Linked DNA regions of Homo sapiens. The protein of the gene in region 3 purifies or fractionates together with the protein of the main gene of each other region. This does not show direct contact. Each region holds a gene or a part of one and is shown on either strand. Other genes may lie near its edges. The genes, in order: GLB1, LYZ and KHK.

Region 1 (3,649 bases), on a different chromosome or scaffold from region 3:
TATATTCCTCAGTGTTCTTGTGAGGGGCAAGTGAGTTAAACATAAACTCAGAACTGTGCATGGTGTAGAACAAGTCCTCAACAAATGAGAGCTACTGCTCCATGTCAGGACAGGAATATCAGAAACACCACATCCTTTCCTATCTGTGCACATACACAGCACACACACACGTGCATGCCTGACTACTGACATGTGTATAGGCCTGTACTGTGTGAATATGTGAAGTTCTTATGTTGAAACACACAAAACGGGATCCAATTTAAGGTAATCTGTTTTTTCATGTATCAAAAAATTTGCATATAAGTATAGATCTCTCACCATTTTAGTGGCTAAAATACTATGCTTCTATATAGATATACCATACTATGTACACTGTGCAACTGTTAATCATTTAGATTGTTTGCATAATTGTTTTGAGCTGTATTTATAGGTTATCTAGTCCAAAAGCAAGTCAAATAACGATCAGAAAAGCAGCAGTCCACAGATCAAACCAAGACTATTTTCCATCCTTTTGAACTTCAAGTTAGTGAAGTGGTTTATTCAGCCCACTCAAGTCTAGTTATGATTTAAGTCAGACCATATAATTCAATACCTGCACATTAAAAACAGTGACATCATCATTTGAGTACAAATTTTATTTAACAAAAAGGTAACATGATTCTTCCAAAATAAAAATCACTACCACCTTTAAAGCTTCCATTCCAGCCCTGCAGATATGTATGCACGTTACTGTGCTGTCAGCCCCTCACACATTCCAGGTGGTCCCTGAAGGTGGGGCTTTGGCACTGCAGGGATGCAGGGAAACCTCAGGTGAAAATGCACATCCTAAATTCCTTTTCCATTTCCACATTCCAATCAGTGAAATGTGGCATGACAGGGAGGATCTGTGAGGTATGTTCAGGGTAGAATCCCTCAAAGACACAGGCTTTCATCATCATACATGGTCCAGCCATGAATCTTTGTTTTTTTGCGGGGGTGGGGGCATGAGTCTTTTTTCAACAGGTTTGGAGGGATGATCGTAGGTCACAGATGAGCCAATAACTGGCCTGTCCACGAACGTCACAGCACATAGTTCTGGATCATCACTGCTGCAGGGTGCCCACTCCAGTTCCAGCACGGTGATGGTGTTTGGGGCCGAGGTCATCAGGATGTGCTGGGGCACAAACAAGGTCAACTGAGGGCCCCGGGCTGGCCAATAGCGGCCAAGGTTAAAGCCATTAATCCAGACCTGGCCCTGGAGAGAGAGAGACAGAGAACCATCAACCCCAGATGCACCGAAAGCCCTGAGGAAGGTGGGGGCCCTGATGTAGGGCAGGCCAGCAGCAATGGAGGAAAGAAATGCCCCCAGAAAGGCGAGGCTGACAGCCAGGCCCATGCCAGCCTTGGTTTTAGCTTCTTGCTGGGATAACTGGCCAAGGTGGGAAGAAGGTGGATGCCCCCATCCACCTTCTTTGGGGCAACAAAAACTTGCCCCAAAGACCCACTCCTGCTTCAGGAAAATACAGGTTTGGTCCCTCTGACGGGCTTCAGTGGCCACAGATGTTGGTACCAGAGAACAGTGTGGAAATTTCTGAATTTCATCCTGGTTCCCAGGTGCTGCCTGTACCCACAGACCAGCCTCTCCCTGACTTTTCTGTACACAGAAGACAACTGCTGAACTGCTTCCTTAAATAGATCTTTTCCTTCTTTGTTCTCCTTTCCCAGAGGCAGGTCTTGACCTCACTATCTGCTGTACACCTGGTGAACACAGGGAACAGAGGACTCCAGGGCCTGCATCCTGAGGTCAGACAGGTACCAGGAGTGGTCCCCAAAACAACCCCTCAAGAGGGATAGGGGGGTTTGGGGTGAGGGAGAGGAAGAGGCTTATCCAGTTGGGTGTCTATATTACTGCTATGTTCTAAGGACTCTTACAGGCACCCTCAGAGTTAGGGTGTGGACTCCATGTTTGGTTCAGGAGCAGAGGTGATGCTATAGGTTGCATAAACAATTTCTGTGAGTAGGGGAAGCTGCTTCCCATAACAAAACTGAAAGTGGAGGATAAACTCCTAAAAAACAGGGACCATGTTTAGGTCTGTCTACACAGCCTCTCTGTATGTGCTAAAATTTGCTCAAAGGGGCTGAGTGCAGTGGCTCATGCCTGTAATCCCAGAACTTTGGGAGGCCAAGGCAGGCAGATCACCTGAGGTCAGGAGTTCGAGACCAGCCTGGCCAACATGGTGAAACCCCGTCTCTACTAAAAATACAAAAATTAGCCAGGTGTGGTGGCACATGCCTGTAATCCCAGTTACTCAGGAGGCTGAGGCAAGAGAATCACTTGAACCCAGGGAGGCAGAGGTTGCAGTGAGCTGAGATTGCGCCACTGCACTCTAGCCTTGCGCAGTGACAGAGCAAGACTCCGTCTCAAAAAAAAAAAAAAAAGATTTGCTCAAAGCTCAAAGGCTAGGATCAACAGCTGGCTGAATAGATGGACCATTCTATTACAAAGAAAGAAAGTGAAGATGGGGAGATCACATACACGCAAAAGAAAGAGAAAATCTGGGAGAAGAAAGGAAAACATAAAGGGAGAAGGAAGAGGAAAGAGGAATGGAAGAAGGGAGGGAGGCAGGAAAGAAACTGTGACCTACAATGGCCCAGATATCCTAGGAGACAGCCTGGAGGAGGCCCAGCCATGGCTGACACCTGCTGAGCCCTAATCCTCATCACGTTCTGCAACACAACTCTGCTGCTCACCCCAGGGCTCCTCAGTCTTCTTACGTTTGGGTATTTTTCAGCCTCCAAGTGTCCCCTTTACTTTAGATCCTTCTGAATTTCCTACCTGAGTTCGTATCTGTGTCCTGCCACTTACTAGCTGTCTGACCTTGGGCAGGTCTCAACTCAATTTTTCATACCAGTCATTGGGGACAATGATGATGAAGGAACAGTGTGTGGCCTGTAAGCGGTAGCACTCCTTACATGATTAAAGTGAAAAGATGTTGGTGTTCCAATGCCTACAAAAGAAGGGGGTCCGTGATTAAAAACCACCTGTCTGTTGGATTAAGTCATTTAGAAAGAGGACGACAGTTTCACAGTTCTCAGAACTATTTCACTCTTGTTTTTACCCTGGGATATGTTATCTCATTCCATCCTAAAAGGTATATACAATGACAGCTTTAGCAGGTTTTTATCAGCTTAAAATCTGCCGGTGCCTTGTTTTTGCAGTATTAGAGAACAGTAGCACTTTACTTTTGCGGTCAAGGGGGAAGACAGAGAAGTGGGAGGGCATTACGAGCAGCAGCCAAGGAATGGCACGCACCACACAGGCTTCATGCTATGGTCAGGACACAGGCCAAGCCAACTCTTGACCAAATCGCAGGTGAACAAAGTGGAGGTTTGGTCCTTTCTCAAACCTCAAGTTCCATTTCATAAGCATCCAAGAGATGGGCCCTCACATGCCGGGTGGACTGTGCACCTGGTAGGTAAGCTGGGAATTGTTTTCCCTGGATCCCCTTCCCTGGATGGTTCTGGGTTAGCGTTGGTCAGAAGAGGCCCTTGCTTGAGATTGGGAGGGTGGAGAGAAGCAGCAGCCATTGCTCTGGGGAGGTTATCGTGCAGTGGTGCAATCCTGGCTCGCTGCAGCCTCCGCCTCCACCTCCCAAGTTCAAGAGCTTCT
Region 2 (4,243 bases), on a different chromosome or scaffold from region 3:
GACCTCAGGTGATCCACCCACCTCAGCCTCCCAAAGTGCTGGGATTACAGGCATGAGCCACTGCACCTGGCCCTATTTATTATTGAAGAATCAAAATTAGGCCTAGCCTGAAAAATGAGATTATTCTTGATTTTTGAACAGGGTCCTTGAACTGTCATTTAAAACCAAATCTGGTAATCTTTAGAGGCCACTGATGAAAAATAAGGGTAACTACAAAGTGATGACACTTTGTGTGGCTCAGAATCTGTCCTCTTAGGCAGATACAGAAGTGCAGTTCTTTTTGAGTTCTGGTAGCATTGTTTTAAAAGCTGTGCACAGCCTCCTGAGATTGCTATTTTCAAAGGTAGCATTTAGTTGGATATATGTTTGGGTAGGTTTTATTTTTAAAATGCTGTTGCTTTCTAATGACCCCTTATGTTCTAATATGGAAAGGGGAGGCAAAGTATTGTGAAAAGTAGTTGGTAAAGTAGGCCGGATGTGGTGGCTCACACCTGTAATCCCAGCACTTTGGAAGGCCGAGGCGGGCGGATCACGAGGTCAAGAGATCCAGACCATCCTGGCCACATGGTGAAACCCTGTCTCTACTAAAAATACAAAAATTAGCTGGGCATGGTGGTACATGCCTGTAGTCCCAGCTACCTGGGAGGCTGAGGCAGGAGAATTGCTTGAACCCGGGAGGCAGAGGTTGCAATGAACTGAGATTGCGCCACTGCACTCCAGCCTGGTGACAGAGTAAGACTCCATCTCAAAAAAAAAAAAAAAAAGGTAGTTGGTAAAGTTGTTCACATGAACCTTATTTATAATAGTAAAACACTGATTTATAATAATAAAAAATTTGCTATAGTAACAAAAAGAGTCTAGAGTAAGAAACTAGCTGAGCAACGTGGTGTCACACTATACACCCATTAAGACAACAGGCACATGTGTCATGTCCATTTTGTGGAAAAGATATGTAAAATAATTTTAAGTAAAAAAGATAAATATAAAAAAGTGAATGCATACAAAACAATTTCACAAAATTGAATGTTACTCAAAAATCACAGCTCATTTTAAGCTGCACAAAATAGTCATTTTTTTCTTTATAATTGCTCAAATTCATAATCAAACAGAAGAAAGTTCCTGTCTTGGAAGTAGTGCTATGCCCCAATTCTTCCAGAGCCAGTACTTTAAACAATTCCATTTCATTATTTTCCTGTAGACTAATTCTTAGGACATCAGCATATCTCTCTTCAAGCATTAAAAAAATCTCTTTAGAGTCAGTGGATCAATAGACAGTTCCTGTTTTCCACACAACTGAAAGGGTGGAGCCCCCAAACCACAAGGGGAAGAAGGAAGTTAAAAGATGTTAAATACTGGGGCCAGCTCACCCTGGTCAGCCTAGCACTCTGACCTAGCAGTCAACATGAAGGCTCTCATTGTTCTGGGGCTTGTCCTCCTTTCTGTTACGGTCCAGGGCAAGGTCTTTGAAAGGTGTGAGTTGGCCAGAACTCTGAAAAGATTGGGAATGGATGGCTACAGGGGAATCAGCCTAGCAAACTGTAAGTCTACTCTCCATAATTCCAGAGAATTAGCTACGTATGGAACAGACACTAGGAGAGAAGGAAGAAGAAGAAGGGGCTTTGAGTGAATAGATGTTTTATTTCTTTGTGGGTTTGTATACTTACAATGGCTAAAAACATCAGTTTGGTTCTTTATAACCAGAGATACCCGATAAAGGAATACGGGCATGGCAGGGGAAAATTCCATTCTAAGTAAAACAGGACCTGTTGTACTGTTCTAGTGCTAGGAAGTTTGCTGGGTGCCTGAGATTCAATGGCACATGTAAGCTGACTGAAAGATACATTTGAGGACCTGGCAGAGCTCTCTCAAGTCCTTGGTATGTGACTCCAGTTATTTCCCATTTTGAACTTGGGCTCTGAGAGCCTAGAGTGATGCAGTATTTTTCTTGTCTTCAAGTCCCCTGCCGTGATGTGGGATTTTTATTTTTATTTTTATTTTATTTTATTTTATTTTTAAAGACAGTCTCACTGTGTGGCCCAGGCTGGAGTGCAGTGGCATGATCTCAGCTCACTGCAACCTCTGCCTTCTGGGCTCAAGTGATTCTCGTGCTTCAGCCTTCTGAGTAGCTGTGACTACAGGTGTGTACCACCACACCCAGCTAATTTTTTGTATTTTCAGTACAGATGGGGTTTCACCATGTTGGCCAAGCTGGTCTTGAACTCCTGGCCTCAAATGATCTGCCCACCTCAGCCTCCCAAAGTGGTAGGATTACAGGTGTGAACCACTGCACCCAGCCGACATGGGATTTTTAACAGTGATGTTTTTAAAGAATATATTGAATTCCCTACACAAGAGCAGTAGGAACCTAGTTCCCTTCAGTCACTCTTTGTATAGGATCCCAGAAACTCAGCATGAAATGTTTTATTATTTTTATCTACTCTACTTGATTAACTATCTTTCATTTTCTCCCACACAATTCAAGATGTGCCATGAGGAAAAGTTATTTTATAGTTTAGTACATAGTTGTCGATGTAATAATCTCTGTAGTTTTCAGATTGAATTCAGACATTTCCCCTCAATAGCTATTTTTGAATGAATGAGTGAAGGGATGAAATCACGGAATAGTCTTGTTTTCAAGATTCTAACTTGATATCCAAATTCACCTTTAGATATTATAAGAAAATTTCTATCAGAAAATCCTTATGTTTTTCTGATTAAAAAAAGCATTTTTCCATCAGCCTATGTATCTGCTATGAATTTACAAAATCTACTCAACAGCTCTGTTGATTTTTCTGTTCTTGGCTGAATGTTGCCTGAGGGATGGGAGCACGGGAAGGGTAAAAGCAATGGAACAAACATGTATTTTAATATTTTAAAAGTATGTTATATTGTTCGTTGGTGTTACAAGATGATTTGCATTACAAAAGGATTCTCTTACAAGTCCCTTATCTTAACACTAAAGTGCTAAGATATTTTATAAGTAAATCTTTATACTTATAAAACAAATCAGTAAAATAGAAGTAGCTAAGTAGAACTGATTTTGCTATAGAGTATAAGTCACTTAGTGTTGCTGTTTATTACTAAAAATAAGTTCTTTTCAGGGATGTGTTTGGCCAAATGGGAGAGTGGTTACAACACACGAGCTACAAACTACAATGCTGGAGACAGAAGCACTGATTATGGGATATTTCAGATCAATAGCCGCTACTGGTGTAATGATGGCAAAACCCCAGGAGCAGTTAATGCCTGTCATTTATCCTGCAGTGGTAAGACAAGCTAATATTTGACCAATCTGGTTATACTTACAAGAATTGAGACTCAATACAAATGAAAAAGCCTTGAAAGGTTCATGAGGGACCTAGAAAAACTACATCTCAACTTCCAGAAAGTCATTATTATTTTCCTCATAATTCCCTGAGTAAGAAATTAAAGAAGTGGTATCATAAAAGGTTGATGTTTTTTAATATACAGAAGTTTCTGGAATGACCTATTAATTTACTGTCAATGGCCTTACTGATGCTTTGTCCAGAACAATGCCATTGCTCCTGCTTACTTTGGGGAGGTTTTGGGATAATTTAGTTGTATGGTCCTTTTTCAATTGTTTTACTTTTTTTTTTATGAAATGTTCTAAATGTATAGAAAATTAGAGACATTAGTATAATAAACAGCCATATGCCCATTATGCACTTTAAAAGTTGTTAACATTTTGCCATAGTTGCTTCTTCTATGCCTTTTTTTTTTTTTTTTTTTTTTTTTTTTTTTTGCTGAGAGTTTTTTGTTTGGTTTTGTTTTGTTTTATTTTGAGACAGGGTCTCCCTGTCCCCAGGCTGTAGTGCAGTGGCACCATCACAGCTCACTGCAGCCTCAAGTGATCATCCCACCACAGCCTCCCAAGTAGCTGGGACTACAGGTGTGCACCACCATGCCTGGCAAATTTTTGAAATTTTTAGTACAGGCAAATTCTGTGTTGCCCAGGCTGGTCTTGAACTCCTGAGTTCAAGCAATCTTCCCACCTCAGCCTCCTTAAGTGCTGGAATTACAGGCGTTAGCCACTGTACCTGGCTACTGCTGAGAGACTTTTAAGTGAATTAGGAACATGATGATATTCCATTTCTAAATTCTTTAGTTTACATCTTCAAAAAATACAGTTCCTGTAGAATTATTATTGTAAATAACAAATTAACTTAAGGATTTATTTATTTGGAGTGAAACAAATATTTTACTGAACTCATAAAAATAGAAA
Region 3 (3,649 bases):
CAGAGGAAAGGAGCTATTAAAGAGGTTTAATGAGTCACCAGCCCTTGGTTCTGAGCCGTCCTGTCCCATCTCACAGGGCAGATTCTCTCCCTCTATTCTCTTCCTGCCAGTTCATCAAGGCAGGGAGTTTGGCTGTAGCTCAGGTGGTTGGACTCTGCCAGCAGCCCCCTTCAAACCAGGGTTCAAAGGGCTGCCCTTCACAGGCCAGCAACCTGGCAGCCTGCCCCCGTGCCCACAGTGTGCAAAGTGTGGGCCTCACCTCCCGATAAGTGCTTGCTGAGTCGGCAGCGCCAGGGGTCAAAGGGCTCTGAGGTCCCTGCAGCAGCCAACATGGAGGGCGTGCATGAGCCATTTAGGGCTATAGCCCTGACAGCCGGGGAACTGGGAGGTGTGGGTTCTGAGCCCAGCTTTAGCATGTGGCTTCAGGGTGTCCTTGAACAGGGTACTCTCACTGCTTCAGTGAACAACAGGGACATGAGCACCAGCCCTGCCTCTCAACTGGGACAGAAACTGTGGGCCTGGACCTGGGGGAGGATGGGTACCACGTGTCCCTAACTGCCTTCTGCCTCAAGCATGGCCAGGATAAGGGACTTAAGATAAGGCAAAGGCACATCCACCGCAGAGTCTGCAGGAAGCAAGGAAGGAGAAAGGAAGAGGCTGAAGCAGGCTCCAGAAGTGTCCAGGAAACAAGCTGTGGCAAGGAAAGCTTCACAGGGGCAGCATCAGCCCCCGAACCGCAGAGAGGCCACGCCAAGGCAGGGCTGGGCGTCTGGTGCTCCGCCATGCCCCCTCCCCGCGTTTCTGCTGGACACAACCCATTTCTAATCCCCCATCCACCCAGGGTGGATACATCCTTCTTCTCCCACAATGATGCAGGCAGGCCTTCCCCAGTGGGCTCTCCCTCCTGGACTTACTCAGCAACATGGCCAGGAGCCATTGAGCCCATGAAGGCACAGGGGGCTCCGAGCAGGGAGAGAACGGTGCAGGAGTTGGACGCGTTGCCTCCGCGCTGCCATCTCTGGGACAAACACCTGCAAAGCACAGGGAGGGTCCCTGCAGCCCCAGCAGGCTGATCCCAAGCACAGTCTCCTGTATAGGGGCCTACAGAATGTAACAGCTGGGGACTCCTCTCAGAAAGCATCTAGGCCGACGTCTCACTTTGTACCCGGGGCAGCCGAGGCCGGCCAAGGGAAGGAGCTTGGCTGAGAGCGGTGTCTACCTCCCCAGCCCAGGCTAAATTCAAGCTGACAGCAGTTCCTTTCAATATTTCCATCTGTTCCTAGGGCAACAGGAAACCACTCACTTGGGTCCATCACTATTCGAGAGACCCACTAACTCCAGGTCATCTCCTCCTCACCTTTCACCCCAGTCAGAGCTGCTCCAGACGCTGCACCTTTGGCCTCCTCCTTGAGAGCTGGAGCAACTCCAAGGACCTCGGGGACTAAGTGCCTCTTCCCAAAGGTATCACATTTACACCTACCCCTGTGTTAGGAGTGTCTACTTCAATAGAAACTGCAGAGCTATAAAATCAAACGAGTAAGACAGGACAGCAAACCTGGACGTTGGTCGTTTAAGAAGTGGCAGCAGGGAGCACTTCTCCATCTTTACTAAAAACCAACCAAAAGGAAACTAACAAGACACACGTGAAGGGCTTCATTGTCATCAGCAGCAAAAATGATAACTTCCACATAGAGGGTCAACGCACTGATCCCCTCACAGTGTTACTGGAGCCCAAATGAGAAATCATTAATGAATGTTATTACCTTTGAGGTAAGAATGGTGGTGTTATTTCTATTGTGCCAGTTCCAATAATAATAATAATTGTGGCAGTTTACAATAAAAGGAACAGTACCAAAGAACCACGAATTAAGAGAAAAAACCGAACCAGAATTTTTAGGCCAAAGCATATTTGTACGCGAAACTTCAGTTTTGGGAAAAGGGGAGCACGATGTCATTAGAAAAAAAATGATAGTAGGACAGGCACAGTGGCTTATGCCTATAATCCCAGCACTTTGGGAGGCCAAAGCAGGAGGATCACTTGAGCCCAGAAGTTCGAGACCAGCCTGGGCAACCAAAGGGAGCTCTTGTCTCTAAAAAAAAAAAAAAAATTAAAAATTAGCTGGGTATGGTGGTGCATACCCGTGGTCCCAGCTACTCAGGAGGCTGAAGTTGGGGGAGCGTATGAGCCCGGGAGGTTTAGGCTGGGGTGAGCCATGATACTGCACTCCAGCCTGGGTGGCAGAGTGAGATCCTGTCTCAAAAACAACAATAACAACAATGACAAAGGATAGTAATTTTTTTGTTTTTTTGAGACAGAGTCACTCTGTCACCCAGGCTGGAGTGCAATGGCATGATCATGGTTCACTGCAGCCTCAACTTCCCCAGCTCAACTGATCCTCCCACCTTAGTCTCCCAAGTAGCTGGGATTATAGGTGTGCATCACCATGCCCCGCTAATTTAAAAAATTTTTTCGTAGAGATGGCATCTTCTTATGTTGCCCAGGCTGGTCCCGAACTCCTCGGCTCAAGCGATCCTCCTGCCTTGGCCTCCCAAAGTGCTGGGATTATAGGTATGAGCCACTGCACCCAGCTGGTCAAAGATTTTCAAGCTGGCCGGGCGCAGTGGCTCACGCCCATAATCTCAGCACTTTGGGAGGCTGAGGCGGGTGGATCACGAGGTCAGGAGTTCAAGACCAGCCTGGCCAAGATGTTGAAACCCTGTCTCTACTAAAAATACAAAAATGAGCCGGGTGTGGTGGCAGGTGCCTGTAATCCCTGCTACTCGGGAGGCTGAGGCAGGAGAATCTTTTGAACCCGGGAGGCAGAGGTTGCAGTGAGCCAAGATCATGCCACTGCACTCCAGCCTGGGTGACAGAGTAAGACTTTGTCTCCAAAAAAAAAAAAAAAAAAAGAAAGAAAAAAGAAAAAAAAGATTTTCAAGCTGAGCTTTACAGCTTTACAGAAATTTTTACGAAAAGATATGAAAAAAAAGGAGGAATCTCGAGGGATCTGACTTGATCAATAGTTAAGGACAAAGCTGATGTGGGAACCCAATTTCCTGACCCCAAAGCCATTGCTAATTACTCCGTATTTTAAAACTAAAAGTTGTTAGGCCCAAGCATTGAGGTTTCTAAGAAAGGATATAGAATTTTACTCTGGGGAAACCCTTCAAAGTCACACTGATATTTCCTGTGCAGAAATGCTCAGCTAAAGGCTGGGCGCGGTGGCTCACGCCTGTAATCCCAGCACTTTGGGAGGCTGAGGCAGGCGGATCGCCTGACGTCGGGAGTTCGAGACCATCCTGACCAACATGGAGAAACCCCATCTCTACTGAAAGTACAAAATTAGTTGGGTGTGGTGGCACATGCCTGTAATCCCAGCTACTCGGGATGCTGAGGCAGGAGAATTGCTTGAACTCTGGAGGCGGAGGTTGCAGTGAGCCAAGATCGCACCATTGCACTCCAGCCTGGGCAACAAGAGCAAAACTCCAACTCAAAAAATAAAAAAAAGGACACGTCCCAGGGGTCTGGCTGAGCTCCAGGTGGCGGCTCCCAAGAGTCCCCAACTGCCTGTCAAGCACAGAGACCCTAGGACAGGTGGGGCTGAGACACCCAGGAAGGACTGGGTCCCCACTCGGATGTGCTCCTCTG

Evidence for each region.
Region 1: the proteins of KHK (region 3) and GLB1 purify together in Homo sapiens (affinity purification with mass spectrometry; 2 studies listed by BioGRID and IntAct, with this or other methods). This does not show direct contact.
Region 2: the proteins of KHK (region 3) and LYZ purify together in Homo sapiens (affinity purification with mass spectrometry; one large-scale study listed by BioGRID and IntAct). This does not show direct contact.

Annotation. Positions count from the first base shown.
Region 1 is NC_000003.12:32,996,111-32,999,759, forward strand, and holds the end of GLB1 (beta-galactosidase isoform a preproprotein), read right to left. Parts: intron 1,235-3,649; coding exon 935-1,234; 3' UTR 507-934; downstream 1-506.
Region 2 is NC_000012.12:69,347,007-69,351,249, forward strand, and holds the start of LYZ (lysozyme C precursor), read left to right. Parts: upstream 1-1,374; 5' UTR 1,375-1,402; coding exon 1,403-1,538; intron 1,539-3,101; coding exon 3,102-3,266; intron 3,267-4,243. UniProt on the Homo sapiens protein: Lysozymes have primarily a bacteriolytic function; those in tissues and body fluids are associated with the monocyte-macrophage system and enhance the activity of immunoagents.
Region 3 is NC_000002.12:27,089,714-27,093,362, reverse strand, and holds part of KHK (ketohexokinase), read right to left. Parts: intron 1,032-3,649; coding exon 915-1,031; intron 1-914. UniProt on the Homo sapiens protein: Catalyzes the phosphorylation of the ketose sugar fructose to fructose-1-phosphate.